Regions from separate parts of the Homo sapiens genome. Here all the other regions are linked to region 2. The links come from fine-mapping of genetic effects on gene expression. A gene starts in region 2. Each other region holds a variant in brackets. All regions are shown on one strand. Distances are from middle to middle.

Region 1 (2,500 bases), 30 kb before region 2:
CAGAAGTAGCATCCTGTCATGCAGGCTGGAGTGCAGTGGCGTGATCTTGGCTCACTGAAACCTCTGCCTCCCTGGCTCAAGCAATTCTCCTACCTCAGCCTCCCAAGTAGCTGGAATTACAGGTGCCCACCACCACGCCTGGCTAATGTTTGTATTTTTAGTAGAGACAGGGTTTCGCCATGTTGGCCAGGCTGGTTTCAAACTCCTGACCTCAAGTGATTCGCCCACGTCTCAGAGTGCTGGGATTACAGACGTGAGCCACTGCAACCGGCCTATTTTTTTTTATTGTATTGTACTGTTTTTTTGTTTTGTTTTGTTTGTTTTGAGACGGAGTCTCACTGTGTCACCCAGGCTGGAGTACAGTGGTGCAATCTCAGCTCACTGCAACCTCTGCCTTGTGGGTTCAAGCAATACTCCTGTCTCATCCTCCCGAGTAGCTGGGATTACAGGTGCCCACCACCACACTCGGCTAATTTTTGTATTTTTTTAGTAGAGACGGGTTTCACCATGTTGGCCAGACTGGTCTCAAACACCTGACCTTAGGTGATCTGCCCACCTCGACCTCCCAAAGTGCTAGGATTACAGGCCTGAGCCACTGCACCCGGCCTGTATCGTATTTTTATTTATTTATTTATTTATGAGATGGAGTCTTGCTCTGTCTCACCCAGGCTGGAGTGCAGAGGCGCGATCTCGGCTCACTGCATCCTCTGCCTTCCGGGTTCAAGTGATTCTCCTGTATCAGCCTCCCAAGTAGCTAGAACAACAGGCATGTGCCAAGACACCCGGCTAATTTTGTATTTTTAGTAGAGATGAGGGTTCACCATGTTGGCCAGGCTGGTCTCGAACTCCTGACCTCAGGTGATCCACCCACCTCAGCCTCCCAAAGTGCTGCGATTACAGGCATAAGCCACCACGCCTGTCCTATTTTTTTTTTTTTTTTTAAGACGGGGTCTCACTCTGTCACCCAGGCTGGAGTGCAGTGGTATAATCTCGGCTCACTGCAACCTCCACCTCCCAGGTTCACGTAATTCTTCTGCCTCAGCCTGCTGAGTAGCTGAGACTACAGGTGTGCACCACCACCACACCTGGCTAATTTTGGTATTTTCTGGAAGAGACGGGATTTCCCCGTGTTGGCCAGACTGGTCTCAAACTACTGGCCTCGAGTGATCTGCCTGCCTCTGCCTCCCAAAGTTCTGGGATTACAGGCGTGAACCACCACGCCCGGCCATATTTTTTTGTACTTTTAGTAGAGACAGGGTTTCACCATGTTGCCCAGGCTGGTCTCCAACCCCTGAGCTCAAGTGATCCAGCTGCCTCGGCCTCCCAAAGTGCTGGGATTACAGGCACGAGCTATGGCACCCAGCTAGTTATTACATCTTATGGCATTTGTTTGTTTGTTTGTTT[GTTTT/T]TAGACGGAGTCTTGCTCCGTCGCCCAGGCTGGAGTGCAATGGTGCAATCTTGGCTCACTGCACCCTCTGCCTCCCGGGTTCAAGCAATTCTCCTGTCTCAGCCTCCCAGGTAGCTGGGACTACAGGCGCATGCCACCATGCCCAGCTAATTTTTGTATTTTTAGTAGAGACAGAGTTTCACCTTATTGGTCAGGCTGGTCTCGAACTCCTGACCTCAGGTGATCCACCCCCACCTCGGCCTCCCAATGTTCTGGGATTACAGGCGTGAGCCACCACGCCCGGCTTCTTAGGGTGTTTTGTAGACACCTCCGTATCACCTCATGTGCGTCTCTCACAGCCGTGCAGCGGGTAGAGCTGGGCTTGCTGTCATCCTCCCATCTGAGATGAGGAAACCAAGGCTCCGAGAAGGGAGGTGGTGGAGCTGGGGCTTGAACCTCAGACTCCTTGTTCGAAGCCCATGCTGTTAACTTACATCTATGTATGGAGGAAAAGACGACAGGGGAGCCCAGTCGGGGGCGGTGGGGCGGGAGGGGTGGCGGTCTAAATTAACTAAAAGGGAGATTTTCTTTTTGAAGAGTGAGAAGAGACCCAGGAATGTCGGCCCCCCTGCCTCCCTGAGTGGGACGGTTGAGGAGGTTGGGCACATCCTAAAATGCAGGCTGGGTCTGTAACCTACCACAGCTCCACACTGCTCCCAGAGGAGTCCAGTGCCTTTGGCCTGGCAATCAAGGTCCCCTCACAAGAGGCAGCCTAGCCCAGTGGTTAAAAGCATGGGCTCGGCCAGGCGTGGTGGCTCACGCCTGTAATCCCAGCACTTTGGGAGGCCGAGTTGGGTGGATCAGGAGGTCAGGAGATTGAAACCATCCTGGCTAACATGGTGAAACCCCATCTCTACTAAAAATACAAAAAATTAGCCAGGAGTGGTGGCAGGCACCTGTAGTCCCAGCTACTCGGGAGGCTGAGGCAGGAGAATGGCGTGAACCCAGGAGGGAGAGGTCACAGTGAGCCAAGATTGCGCCTCTGCACTCCAGCCTGGGCAACAGAGCCAGACTCTGTCTCAAAAAAGAGTGTGGGCTCAGGACTGCAATCCC
Region 2 (2,500 bases):
TCTGCATGAGCTAAGTCATGAGAATGCTGGCCATCAGAGGCCCTTCCACACCACCCTGTGATGTGAATATTATCACTATGATTCTCATATCATATGTGACAAATATCTTCAGATAAGCAAATTTTATATATCCACCCAACAAACAATTCTTGAGGCCAAGGAGGTATCAGAGGGTGGCTTTTGTCTAAGGGCCTGCAATGAAGAAGAGGTGGAATGAGAGATGGTTCCCTGGTCTCCTGACCCACTCCAAGCTCTCCCTTCCTGGGGTCTGAGCTTCAGAAGCCACCTTAGAGTTCCTGGGTCCTATGAGAACCCCCATGGCTTTTGAAGCACTAGGGGCCTTGTGGTTCTAGGCCTCAGAGCAAACAGATTTGATGTGGGCTCCTGGGAGCAGCCCCCAACCTTTACCTGGCAAAAGAAGATGGGAAGCTCTGTGGTGTCTGGGGGACCAGTCTTCGCCCTACCTCCCGAAGTCATAGATGCAATCCAATGGCATGGGACCACCTCTCCTCTGAGTCCAGGGCCCAGCACAGCCTGGATGCAGAAGGAGAAGTTTCTTCCTCAGAAGATCCTGCAGGGTAGGAGTGTGTGCGGTGTGTTGGTTTAAGCACAATGGTCTGTGTTTAGATTTGCATGTGACCATGAGGTCACACTTTGGGGTTTTCTCTAATGAAGGTTCTGAGTAGGGAGAGGGGATGGGAGTCTAGTCCTTACCCTCCAGCAGAGTTAAGTCAATGCCCCTCTGCTCTCCCCCAAGCTCCCTGTCAGAGAGGTCTCCCAAGGAGGATCTTGGGGCATTTGAGGCCAGAGACTTAAGCAATTCAGAGAATTCTGGAGGCTGAAAAGCAGAGGAAAAGTCTTTTGGTTTTCCAAAGATCTCGGTGTGAATCCTAGATTTACCCATCTGGCTGTGGGATCTTGGGCAAGCATTGCAGCACTCTAAGCCTCAGTTTCCCTGGGTGTTAAATGGCTCCTTCTGTGCAGTTTTGGAGGGAAAAGATTCAAGAGAGACAATAGGTAGCATTAATACCCCAAGGAAGAGAGGTAGGCTCAGTCCGCAGAGCTGGGACAAAGACAAGTACAGGGGCGGGTCGAGAGGGTGCCCACATCAATTTCTACCAGGGCTGCTGCTGCTGTGAGGATGGCTGGCAGGGGCGTGGGCGACGTCGCCCGGCACACACTGGCGGCGGCAACTCTCGTAGCTGCGGGTGATCGGGGTCTGGGAGGGGCGGGCACAACCCGTACGGTGGAGCTGGCTGGGGCGCGAAGGGGCGGGCCCTCGGCTGGGCCGGGCGGAGCGCGGCGGCGGGAGGGGAGGTAGGCCGGGCAAGGCAAGCGGACGTGAGCTGCAGGCGGAAGACAGGTGGCGCCGCGGGCAGCTTGGCGAGAGGCGGGACTTCGGCGGCGCGGCGGGAGGCGGGGCAGGAAGGCGCGCGCGGCGCAGCAGCCTCGCCCGTCGCGGAGAGTGGGCTCTGCCCGCCGTCCCCCGGGGGCTGCTTCCCGCCCCAGGCCTCCGCGGAGGACACGTGTCAGCACGTTCCCGCGGTTGTCATTCCATTGTCATAGCCCTTCCCCTAGGCCGGGAACCCCTCCCCCCCACCAGCCCCAGTTCCTTTATCCCTGGGCCCAACCTCCCCGCCGACCCGCGGTCCAGGCCTCGGTCTCTCTCTTCGGCGGCGAGCCGCGGCCCAGACCCCGGCAGAGGACACTTGTCGGCACGTTCTCACCCCTGTCATCTCAGCCCCCTGCCTAGCTCCACCCCAGGCTTGGGAACCCGGCCCCTGACGGCCCATTGTCCGCGGGCCCAGCCCCCGCGCTGAACGCACGCTCGCCCTTGCCCCTAACCAGCGCGTCTACCCCGGCAACGCGCAGTGACCTGGGATGCAGCCCTCAGGCTGGGCGGCCGCCAGGGAGGCGGCGGGCCGCGACATGCTGGCCGCCGACCTCCGGTGCAGCCTCTTCGCCTCGGCCCTGCAGAGCTACAAGCGCGACTCGGTGCTGCGGCCCTTCCCCGCGTCCTACGCCCGCGGCGACTGTAAGGACTTTGAAGCCCTGGTGAGTGTGCTTTGTCCTGGCGCTGCCCACTGCGTCCTGGACCAAGTGCCCTGTGGAACCACAGGTAGAGGCAGTTCCATCCGCATTAGTAAACATGACAGCCGCCAGACTTTCCATTCCCAGCTTGGTCTTGCCTTGCCTTGGGGAAGGTTTCCATGAGCTAAGAACACTGCTAACACCCTCATGTCAACGCTCACTCCCAAGGCACTTGGTGGCTGCTTCTCTCCTGTCAATGACAAATGACTCCGAGGACTGAAGTGAGGAATAGTTGCATAGTCCTCCACAGATTTTCTAGCCTGGCCAGGAATAGGGTTGATGTGAATCAGCTGTTTTGCTTAGCTAGAAAGTTATCCATCCTTTTGCAAATAATTAGACACCAAAAAGTCACCAAAGCCGCCCAGACATTGGTCTTCAGATGAGGTGATCTATGGGCAGTACTTTTATA
Region 3 (2,779 bases), 22 kb before region 2:
CAGCTCAGAGGGCAAGCTGTGTCCTTTTCAGTGCATTACATCTGGAGGCTCCCGATGCTGGCCTGGCCTGATTTTGGTGAGGGGCCTGGATTTTCAGCTGGAAGGCCGGTGCGTGTTCTCGCCTCCTGGAGGCACCCCCAGCATGGAGGGAAGAGGGGAAGGAATGTGCATAGCTCCTCGGTGAATTAGTGTTAGCCACGGGAGGAGCACGGTCTCTGGGACTCTTCGATCCCCACAGACGACAACCAAAAACTCAGAAGGAAGTCCGTCCATCACAGCCTGAGATGCACTCTCCCAGTGCCTCTCCCTGGACCATTTCTCAGTGTGTCAAGGGCCCTGTCACCTCCATGAAGTCTTCATGATTCTCTTGGGCAGAAGCAGTTGCTCCCTCCTCTCTCCTTCTGCAACCCTTCGCCTCATTTTCCTGCTTGCTGCAATCTGTTAGAGTTCACTGTGAGGCTCTTACTGCCCCTGTATATCCAGGCCCAGTAGAGAAGCCCAGGCCCAGGGCCCAGCAGAGAAGCTTCTCCATAAATATTTGTCAAATAAATCGTAACTCAACTGAAATCAGTCTGCCTTGTGGTCAATTTTACATTTTATTTATTTATTTATTTACAGATAGAGTCTTACTCTGTCGCCAGGCTGGAGTGCAGTGGCGTGATCTCGGCTCACTACAACCTCTGACTCCCTGGTTCAAGCAATTCTCCTGCCTCAGCTTCCCAAGTAGCTGGGACTACAGGCATATGCCACCACACCCAGCTAATTTTTGTATTTTCAGTAGAGATGGGGTTTTACCATGTTGGCCAGGCTGGTGTCAATCTCCTGACCTCATGATTCACCCGCCTCGGCTTCCTAAAGTTCTGGGATTACAGGCATGAGCCACCACGCCTGGGCTTTTTTTGTTTTTTGAAACAGAGTATTGCTCTTGTTGCCCAGGTTGTAGTGCAATGGCGCGATCTCTGCTCACCGCAACCTCCACCTCCCAGGTTCAAGCGATTCTCCTGCCTCAGCCTCCCGAATAGCTGGGATTACAGGCATGCACCACCATACCAAGCTAATTTTGTATTTTTAGTAGAGATGGGGTTTCTCCATGTTGGTCAGGCTGGTCTCGAACTCCTGACCTCAGGTGATCCGCCCACCTTGGCCTCCTAAAGCGCTGGGATTACAGGTGTGAGCCACTGTGCCCGGCCTTATTTATTTATTTACTTACTTACTTATTTTTGAGACAGAGCCTCACTCTGTTACCCAGGTTGGTGTGCAGTGGTGTGATCTCAGCTCACTGCAACCTCTGCATCCTGGGTTCGAGCGATTGTCCTGCCTCCGCCTCCCAAATAGTTTGGACTACAGGCGCCCACCACCACACCCAGCTAATTTTTGTATTTTTAGTAGAGATGGGGTTTTACCATGTTGGTCAAGCTGGTCTCGAACTACTTTTTTCTTTTTCTTTTTGAGAGAGAGTCTCCCTCTGTCACTCAGGCTAGAGTAGAGTGGCAGAATCTTGGCTCACTGCAACTTCCACCTCCCAGGTTCAAGCAATTCTCCCACCTCAGCCTCCTGAGTAGCTGGGATTACAGGCACACACCAT[C/A]ATGCCCAGCTAATTTTTGTATTTTAGTAGAGACAGGGTTTCACCATGTTAGCTAGGCTGGTCTCAAACTCCTGACCACAAGCAATCCATGTGCCTTGGCCTCCCAAAGTATTGGGATTATAGGCATGAGCCATTGCACCTGGCCAATTTTACCATTTTTTAAAATTATTCTTTTAGAGACAGGGTCTCACTATTTCACCTAGGCTGGTCTCGAACTCCCAGCCTCAAGTGATCCTCCCAATTTGGTCCCCTAAGTAGCTGGGTTTACAGCCACCACTCCTGGCTCAGTTTCACATGTGAAAGAAAAGTCCGGGTGGGGCACGATGGCTCACGCCTGTAATGCCAGCACTTTGGGAGGCTGAGTCAGTGGGATCGCTTGAATCCAGGAGTTTGAGACTAACCTGGGCAACATGGTGAGACTGTCTCTACAAAACAATTCAAATAGCTGGGCGTGGTGGTGCATGCCCGTAGTCCCAGCTACTCAGGAAGCTGAAGTAGGAGGATCACTTGAGCCTGATAGGTAGAAGCTGCAGTCAGCCATGATTATACCACTATACTCCAGCCTGGTTGATAGAGGGAGACCCTGTCTCAAGAAAAAAAAGGAAAAGTCCTACATCCAAAACTGAATTGAGGCCGTGCGCAGTGGCTCACGCCTGTAATCCCAACACTTTGGGAGGCTGAAGTGGGCAGATCACTTGAGGTCAGGAGTTCGAGACCAGCCTGGCCAACATGGTGAAACCCCAGCTCTACTTAAATACAAAAATTAGTTGGTCATGATGGGGTGCACCTGTAATCCCAGCTACTCCAGAGGCTGAGGCACGAGAATCACTTGAACCTGGGAGGCGGAGGTTGTGTGAGCCAAGATTGCATCATTGCACTGCAGCCTGGATGACAGAGCAAGACTCCTTCTCAAAAATAAATAAATAAATAAAAATAATTATAAATATTAGAAAGGAAAAATTGAAAAAAATCCCCAGATAATGAGATTATATAGGTAGAAAACTGAAAATAATCTACACATAGATTAAAGTTAATAAATCAAGTAAGGTTGCCAGATGTAAGATCCCATACAGGTTCACTGAATTTCTATAAAACCGCAGTGTACAGTTAGGAGATATTATTTTAGAAATTAATAAAAAGTGTGAGATTTTTAGTAGAAAAATTATAACACTTTACTGAAAGATAATGAAGACC

What was found. PIP is the estimated chance that this variant, and not a neighbour inherited with it, causes the effect.
Region 1: its variant is the best candidate, but not a certain one, in a credible set for the expression of PARP16 in whole blood (INTERVAL, PIP 0.58).
Region 3: its variant is the best candidate, but not a certain one, in a credible set for the expression of PARP16 in whole blood (INTERVAL, PIP 0.75).

What each region holds. Positions count from the first base shown.
Region 1 is chr15:65,315,922-65,318,421 of GRCh38, reverse strand. No RefSeq gene overlaps it. Among named protein-coding and RNA genes, the nearest start is that of RNU5B-1, 12 kb to the right of the region's middle. The variant GTTTT/T (reference allele first, on the strand shown) is at 1,405.
Region 2 is chr15:65,285,808-65,288,307 of GRCh38, reverse strand. It overlaps PARP16 (poly(ADP-ribose) polymerase family member 16), which reads left to right and starts at 1,425. Exons shown (of 6, transcript NM_001316943.2): 1 at 1,425-2,055. The coding sequence starts at 1,882. RefSeq lists an enhancer at 981-1,030 and a silencer at 1,181-1,740.
Region 3 is chr15:65,307,417-65,310,195 of GRCh38, reverse strand. No RefSeq gene overlaps it. Among named protein-coding and RNA genes, the nearest start is that of RNU5B-1, 4.1 kb to the right of the region's middle. The variant C/A (reference allele first, on the strand shown) is at 1,586.